Linked DNA regions of Homo sapiens: region 2 is linked to region 1. The links come from fine-mapping of genetic effects on gene expression. A gene starts in region 1. The other region holds a variant in brackets. All regions are shown on one strand. Distances are from middle to middle.

Region 1 (4,405 bases):
GGGAAATGGAGGCGATCTAGGGATTCCCATCGCCACTTAAATCTGTTAGTGAGCTAAGTTACACACGGGCAGGGATTTCTGTGTTTGTTCACTGCTGTATCTGCAGTGCCCAGAATAAGTGTCTGACAAATGGTAGATACTCGATGGGTATTTGTGGAAAGAATCATAACAATAGCATAAAACAGACTTGCAAAGTGCTCCCTAAAAATGCCAATACAATTTCAACAAAAGCAGTGTGTCACAGAGAGTCAGTTGGGAGCCAATCCCTTGGTTGAGGAAGTATTTCCATATATGGCTCTTTTTGTTGTTGCTATTTTTCAAAAATTATATAATTTAAAATCTTCAAAAATTGTAAAATGTTTAACATTAAAAAGTAAAAAAAAAAAAAAAAAATTGTCAGGCATAGTGGCTCATGGCTGTAATCCCAGCGCTTTGGATGGCTGAGGCAGGAGGTTCGCTTAAACTTAGGAGTCGGAGATCAGCCGGGGGAACATGGCAAAACCCTGTCTCTTCAAAAAAACACACAAAATTTAGCCAGATGTGCTGGTTGCATGCCTATAGTCCTAACTACTCCAGAGGCTGAGGTGGGAGGATGGCTTGAGCCTGAGAGGCAAAGGTTGCAGTGAGCCCAGATCACACCACTGTGCTCCAGTCTGGTGACAGAGTGAGATCCTGTCTCAAAAAAAAATAACAAACAAAACTAATCTATAGTATTAGAAGTTAAGATTTATTGTTATCTCTTTGAGGCAGGTGTTTTGATTAGAAGAGGACATAAAGGGGGCTTCAGGTAAACTTGAACTAGTCTATGGTTTAACCTCAATGTTGATTACATGAGTTTGTTCACTAAAAATTTGACAAGCTGTATACCTGTAACTTGCCAATTTCTTGCATTTATATTACACATCAATAAAATAAGTTTAAAATTATGTTGTGATTTGCATCATTTACATGCTTAAGTAAATTCTAAGAATCAAATAGTATCATTGTAAGTTTTTAAAAATTCATGTTTTTAATTATTCTGCAGAAAGTTTGCACCAGTTTTGACTTCCACAAACGACATATAAAAATGCAATTTATTTGCATTCTCTTTAGAACTTGCTATTATAATTTTCCTAATTTTTAATGATTTTATGTAAGAAAAATTAAGTGTATACTTTTCTCTCCAACTTTTTATTTGAAAAATTTCAAACTTACAGAAAAGCTGAAAGAATAATGTAATGGATACCAATATATCCCTTACTAGATTCACCAAGTCTTTAAGTTTTTGCCACACTTGCTATCTCTCTGTTTCTATTTACACACACATATATATATGTGTGTATATATGTATATATGTGTATATATGTATATATGTGTGTGTATATATGTGTATATATGTATATATGTATATATATGTGTATATATGTATATATATGTATATACACATACACACACATCTATTTATCTGTCTGCATTTCTGAGCTATTTTTAAAGAAGTTTTAGACATCATGACAATTTATCCCTTAATGTATCACTTAAGAGTAAGAATTTTTTTTACATAACCACATTTATCATTACACTTCTATATTGTCAAGTAATATCTAGTCCACATTTATAGTTCCACAATACTGTCTTTTCTAGCTGATTAAAAAACAGGATTCAATAAAGTTCATTCACATGTTGCATTTAAATGTTTTATCTCTTCAGTTTCTTTTTTACCTAAAAGAGTCCCTGCCCCGGACCGTCTCCCCACCTCCTCCCTTCCCAGCTTTTCATATTAAAATTTTTCAAGTCTAGGTCACTTGAAAACCTCCTGTTTGTCTTCAGATATGTATGACAATGGTTGATTTTACAAGCTCATATTGCAAAATTATTACAGGTTTTTAGAAGCAAATGTATCCACAACTGTAACAGATTTTCATTTTTGGATATTGGCTTGTCAGAGCAAGACGCTGGATCTCCAGCCAGGCACCAGATGTTTTTATTGAGGGGAAAAAAAGAGCATTAAGAGCTTTTAAATCTTATATTATTACTTTGATCATATAAGAAATAATTGTGACATTTCATGCCTGGAAATGTATCACGGGGGCTTTCGTTCATATTGACACTATATATTACTGAATGGATCAGTTAATATATAACCAGTTTAAAGGACCTGAAAATGTAGTGACAGCCAAGAAGGATATTTTGAAGTTTGAAATGATCCCTATATAAATAGAACGGATCAGCATAACTTTGGGATAAAATTAGCCGACAGTTTGTGGACTCTCCAGCATGCGCCTGTTTGCTCGGTGCTGTTCTCTCGATAAATCACAACAAAGCTTCCAGAGGGAGAGGAAGGATGGACGGCACCACTGCCCCTGTCACTAAATCTGGAGCTGCCAAGTTAGTTAAGAGAAATTTCCTTGAGGCGCTAAAGTCCAATGACTTCGGAAAATTGAAGGCTATTTTGATCCAAAGGCAAATAGATGTGGACACTGTTTTTGAAGTCGAAGATGAGAATATGGTTTTGGCATCTTATAAACAAGGTAAAAACATATAGGTGTTATTGTAGAACTGTTAGAAAATGATTTAAAAAAATGCACAGTGTCAGTTATCCACTCTAAACAGTAGTTTTTATTGTTTCTTTAAGTATTCATTTAAAAAATATTTCTAAATTGATATTTTCTTTCTTTTTAAACTAAAACACATTGTGGGCTGATATATATGTATAAGTCGTGTCTCTCCTTTTCTTTTCCCACCCTTGGGCCTAGGACTTGAAATCCCAGACAATCATTTTTAGCAATGCACTCTCTCTGTTTTTAACTTTTCTTCTGACTATGATGATATAGAAGGAAGAAAACATTTTTAGATTATGGCTAAGCAGATTGTTGAAACCCTATCTTAGACAATGTACCTGGTTTAAGAACACGCTGCTAATTCTCCATTAACAGCTACTTAAAGATATATCCTCTCTATGTCCATGTGGATGAAAAAGAGGAATCTCCCCAACATTTGGAGGGTTAATAAATGGATAAAGCGGTGCCACAGGCACCTTCATGGTCTTCTTCATTTTAATGAGTTTTCAGTTCAGGCACAAAAGCTGAATTCAGCAAAACCAAAAAGTTAACTTTTTTCCTGGACTACAATAATTGTTCAAAATTGTAGATGTGTTTAATACAGAATATCTGTCTTATAACGACCTAAGGAAAACAAAAATTAGACCAATTTTTTTTTACCAAGGAATTTTCTGGAACCCATGCTTAATAAATCAGAAATGAATTAGAGTTCCACTGATTCTGATTTCCCAAATCAACTGGTTAATTGGGGGAACGTGAGTAGTTAGATCATCTGGCGAGCATACTGCAAACATGCTGCTCAACATCACTAATGTTTAATACAATATAGATGCTAAGGTCTTGTGTATAGCATTTAGAGACAGTCATTATTTTAATGTTTAAAAATGATTTCTGGCCATCTATAAATCATCAGTATAATACATTTCCAGATACAAATGCTAATGGTACAGTATATATTTCTTCATTAATTTACTGTCCTCCGATTGTCAGTTCTGAGGGACATATAGAAGAGCTCAGGCTAGTTACTATGTTTATGATTTTTACTCAAGGGCTTTATAATATTTTGGCATTAATGGCATTAATATTTTGATGGGAAGACAAAGAAGGGATCTATTTTTTAAAAAGTTTATGGGGTCTGTTAGAAAATTTGTATACTATATAATCAGATTGCTTTCATCTTATAATTTTGTTCAGTGATAGAATGTCTGAATGCTAAACTAATTTTTAAGATGTTTTTAAAAAGCTTATATTTGTGCCTAGGGTGAAATAACTCAGGTTCAAGTCAGTGGGTAAGTTATTTGACCCTGAGTTGCAAAGACTGTCTTCTCTCATCTGAGCAGGCCAAGTTGCACAGATTGTGGGAAGTTTCTGAGGATATAAGAAACCAAGTTTTAGGTGCAGGCTCTAGGGAAGTGGAGGGGAGAGGTGGGGTTGGTTCTCCTACTTCCACCGGTGTCATCTTCCTTGAAGGAAAAGAAAATACATTTTAAATTCTTCTTGTCAATATGAGCTGACTCCTATGGTCCTCATAGAGCTAAATTTTCATTCCCACGAATTGAGGTGTTTTCATAGTGTTAGGACTGTGGGATGTGGCTTTCAATTAGGGAGATAGCAAATTACACCCTCTGGAAAAGGAAAAGAACAGTTCCATTCTTATGTATGCCAAGTGGATGCTTGCACAGAACTAGTAAAATTTGTGGTCTTACTTTTAGGGTTTATGCAGGAAATTTGTGTCTGCACTCATGTGTAGAAAGAAACACACTTGAAACACACTTCTCCACTACTCTGTTTAATACGCACATGGGCACAAGGACCTGTCTCTTTAGTCTTAAACCCAGGTTAAAACTTCATCTTTCTTAAAAGTTTCT
Region 2 (4,405 bases), 89 kb before region 1:
CCTTTCATGTTTATTTACATAATGTAGACATTATGTGGGTATTTTACCTATATCAGCTAACCTTACCCAGTTATTGCTGAAAAACTGTATAATATGATTCAACATGGAAAATTCTGCTGCCCAAATAAAAGACACTATTTAATAGTATGAGTAATTGAACAATATTATTAATTTAAATGCACGAAATAGCCCTAATTTTCTAAAGTATCGTCTGTTATAAATCTGCACTTAATCCCCTACAGTCTTGCCCTTTGAACTTTTCCTTCCAAACTGCTTTCCCAAAATTCAACAGGGTCTCCTAATAGTCAAACTCTATCACTTTTGCTTTAATTTTTAAATTTTATGCTGACTTACTCCGCAAGTATGTAAATTCATTAAACCAACCACAATTTAAACAATTGGCCGATTTATTTTTCAACACAATTTTCTTGTTTCCAGAGTGAAAAGGAATGTTTCCACATTCTTCTAATATCAGGGATAATTTAAAATTTTTATTAAAGTATATTCAGAAAGACTCAATACTTATCTTACAGTCATTTATTTAAAAAAATACCCTTAGATCTACTTTATTATTATTACTATTATTTTATGATTCTCCATGTGGTTGCACTGGGAGCAAATGTAACAATAAAACTCTCAAACTGGAAGTATTACTAATAGGCACCAGGCACCTCAACAGATTCTAGACGTGATCCTCTAAGAAGACCAGCTTCAACTAAGAGAAATACATAAACACTCAAAGACAACTGAAAGCAAGCAGAGGCTTTCGATCCACTCATGAATGTGTATTATCACTTAAAGGTTCTTCTTTCTAGCCCAGTATTGACTTTTCCTGAGACATTTCTAGGCTGGCTATCACCATTGTATCTTCCACTTCAAAAGGTCAAATGCCTACAAAATGCCAGTTACCGCCTGCAGGTTTCAGCTGGTTTGCCCTGCTGTCTGGCCAGCTCTTTAAATCTAGGATAGGTTCCATAACCCAGTACTTCTGCATGGTTAGCCAGACCTGGGCAATGTCTCAGTCAGCCGTAAACATCCAACTGGTAGCCTGATCCTCTCTCCCAAGTCCGGCGTTTCCAATGGACGTCCTTTTTTCCCAAGCAGAATGTTGAGGGCGAGCTGGGAAAGGGGTCATCACGTTCAGAAAGTAAAAGGGGGTCATGACCTTCAGAAAGCAAAGTGGGGGATCATAACCTTCAAAAAATAAATGGGACTAATTCGGCTCGGCAGTCTTTGGAAACGCAAGTAGCTCACTTTCCCCATAAGCGAGTCTCAAGGGGCGGTTTGCTGGGTGAGATGGAGGAGTGAGGTTCCAAAGCTGCTCTTTCCTACCCGCTAGGAAGGGGGCGCCAGGCAGCCCCTGACCTCACTTGGAAGAGGAGAGAAAGAGAGTCGAAGACGCCCTGTCAAGATGCCACTCACCTAAACGCCAGGAACATCTCCCCGACTAAGGACAGGCCGACCCCCAGCAGGACCAGCGCCACGAGCTTCCCCATGGTCTCGGGGTGCCCAGCGGCGACTGCGCGGCGCCGAGAGCTCTCGGGGGCGCGGCGGGCGGTTCCTGCCTCGCGTACGGATTGGGGCCCGCTCGGCCCCGCCCGCACACGCCTCCTACTTACCTGAGCGGCCCGGGTGCCGCAGCAGGGCGCTGACGAGTCCCGCCGAGCCCCGCCGCCCGGGTTCAAGGCCGCCTTCACGCCCACGATTCCTTGTTTTTTGGGCAGAGGTCAAGGCTCAACGGAGAGGGAGCCCGGGACCGAGTTGTGGTGGGAGTTTGCTCCTAACACCCGCGAAATCCTACCTCAATTCCTCAGATGGCCTGAGGGAGAAACCGGAGGGCCCGGGAATGGCGGGGAGCTCCAGTTCAGAGCCGGAACTCCGGACTTCTGCAAGGCCAGACGTGAGGCGACACTGAATTGCTCCCGAGACGCGGGAAGGGCGAAGGCAATCGAAGCGAAGAGCTTTAACTCATCTTCTCCAGGATTTGGGGCACGGGAACCTGTCTCCTGACCTTCGTGCCTTACCTCGGAGTGTGCTGCCCAGACGGACTTGTGAATAGCTGCGTCTGTCCCCATAGTTAACGGGAGAAGGAAACACCAGGAGAAAAGAAGGAAAAGACAGGAAACGGGAAGAGGAGCAGAGGCGAGGAAGGGGAAGGTCATTTCCTTGGCAGGGTAGGCCCTCTTTCTTCTAGGTCTTGAGTTCCTGCCAGGCAAGAAATGCTCTTTCCCCTCTCCTGATGAACACCAGGTTGGAGGGGGAGGAACTGAAGATGCGGGAAGACTTGGGGAGTTCGGGCAAAGTAGCACATTCAAGCATGATCTATTTTTATTTACGGACAGAAAGAAATATTAGTTCTGTTAGGTTCCACCGAGTAAACTATTTGTTGAGAGAGCAAGATTTGCCAATCCTGGGGGTATTAAGGAAAGAAAAGGTGGTCCCTGACCTATGGGATACATGATTCTAGTATGAATACGTAATTACAGGATGAATAATGAAGCCCACCGCTTATGCAGTACTGACTGTGTGCTTTGCCTGTGCTGACACCTATGTTAACGCATTTAATTATCAACACAATCTCTGGAG[T/C]GTGGGTAGCCTTACCCCAATTTTACAGGTGAGACCTGCAGCACAGATTGCTTATGTGGCTTGCTGTAGGTCAGGCAGCTGTCAAGCAGCAGACTCCAAAATCTGGGCCCTTAACTGAGCTGCCTCTACCATGCTGCCTCTAGAAAATCTATGGAAGAAGGGTTGTATTAAAAGGACAGTGTAACGTCTTGAATTGTATAGATTAGAGTTCTTGTTAAGATGACTAATGTTAAAAGAGTGCAAGCAGAGGAGGAATCGAAGTCAGGAGGGCTCACAGAGCTGAGGGGCCTGGGGTGTGATGTAGACATGCATGCAGGGTTTGGGAGTCAGGCTGCCTGGGTTTGGATCCAGCCTAGATAAAGTACTCAGCTTTATTGAGCTACAGATTCCTCTTCTGTAAAAGAACGTCCACCTCATAGGTAGCTTAAAATTAAATGTGATAATGAGTGTCAAGTGCTCTGCACTGTGCTTGATACGTTTTATGAAGTCAGTAAAGATTAACCACTAATTAATTCTGAACTTTGCTTGAGATTGTAGGCTCCTGTGGGAAGGACTCCATCGCATTGATCACTGGGTTTTCCCGTGCCATCCATAGAACTTTGTGCTTAATAATGACTCAATAAATATGATTAGATGGATGGATGTAAAATATGGACTTGGGAGAAAGAAAAATTAGAAGAATAAAAAATAAATGGAATGAATAATGAAATAATAATAGTCATATTATTATTTCACTCAGCGTTTGCATGCCTTGTCACATTACTTCTTATTAACCTTACCTACAAAGAAGTAAAGTGAATTGCTTGCTGCAAGTTTGATGGGACTAAAAAGAAGGAAAGTGAGGCTTTGAGGCTTAGAGAGGTAAAGTAATAATTCACTTAAGGTTACATAACTAAGTGTCAGTGCCTCCATCTGGACTCAGATCAGGTGACTCTAGAGCTCATGTTCCTTATCACTGTGTTTGCAGCATAGCATGAAGAAGGGGGTAAAGAAAGAAGCGTATTCTTGGGCAATTGATTGAAGTTCTGTGTTAGCTATAATTTGTTTAAAAATTCTTCACTTTAGGCAGAGGAGTCTCTGTGTGTGTGTGTGCATGTGTGTGTGTGTGTGTGTGTGTGTGTGTATACATTAACTTTAAACCCTAGAAGTGGTTAGTTTTTATTCGAATACCATAATCAGTAATTCAAATCCCCAGCATGGTAAATTAGCATTAAAGAATTCCAAACTTTGGAGGCCACTGTATCGAGTGTCACCATCTAAATCTGCTCTTGGCAATAGGCCAAATTGACTTGGTCAAGAGGCCACAGGTACATCAGTATTGTAAAAGGGGTTTGTTGACTTTGAAAGAGCAGGACAGATAAATTCAAAAGGCCTAAATTCAAGATCCAATTCCATTTGTAGTTGGCCCTTTAATCTTTTGAAATCACTTATCACCACCTCTGGACCCTTCTTTCCTTATATGTATAGTGGGGCTTTCAAAGAGCTAATGTAGACCAAATTCAATGCTATACGTTTAAACAGTAAGTAACACAATACTATATATAGATCTAGGGAGTCCCACACCATTGATAATCAAAATGCCATTAAGGGGGATGCAGAATATACATGTGGTATAATTCTAAGGTATAAAATTAGGGGAATTACATATTATCCACATATGTGTGTGTGTGTGTGTGTGTGTGTGTATATATATATATATATATAAACAATCTAGACATAAACTGAAGAGTAGTTACTTTGAGAGCAGAAGATTGGGGTCGTGGAGAGTGGGGAGGTCAGTGAGTATGGAAGGAGACTTTGCTTTTACTGTACGACCCTC

Alleles and levels. Positions count from the first base shown, and alleles are read on the strand shown. Sizes are in standard deviations (SD) of each study's normalised expression.
For the expression in tibial nerve of the gene that starts at base 2,292 in region 1, allele C in region 2 goes with a higher level than allele T (large effect, 0.76 SD a copy in GTEx).

The links.
Region 2: its variant is fine-mapped to the expression of ASB4 in tibial nerve (GTEx, PIP 0.93).

What each region holds. Positions count from the first base shown.
Region 1 is chr7:95,483,652-95,488,056 of GRCh38, forward strand. ASB4 (ankyrin repeat and SOCS box containing 4) reads left to right here and starts at 2,292. Exons shown (of 5, transcript NM_016116.3): 1 at 2,292-2,507. The coding sequence starts at 2,321.
Region 2 is chr7:95,394,855-95,399,259 of GRCh38, forward strand. It overlaps PON3 (paraoxonase 3), which reads right to left and starts at 1,521. Exons shown (of 9, transcript NM_000940.3): 1 at 1,423-1,521. The coding sequence starts at 1,496. LOC107986822 (a long non-coding RNA gene) reads left to right here and starts at 1,618. Exons shown (of 2, transcript XR_007060439.1): 1 at 1,618-2,174. The variant T/C (reference allele first, on the strand shown) is at 2,587.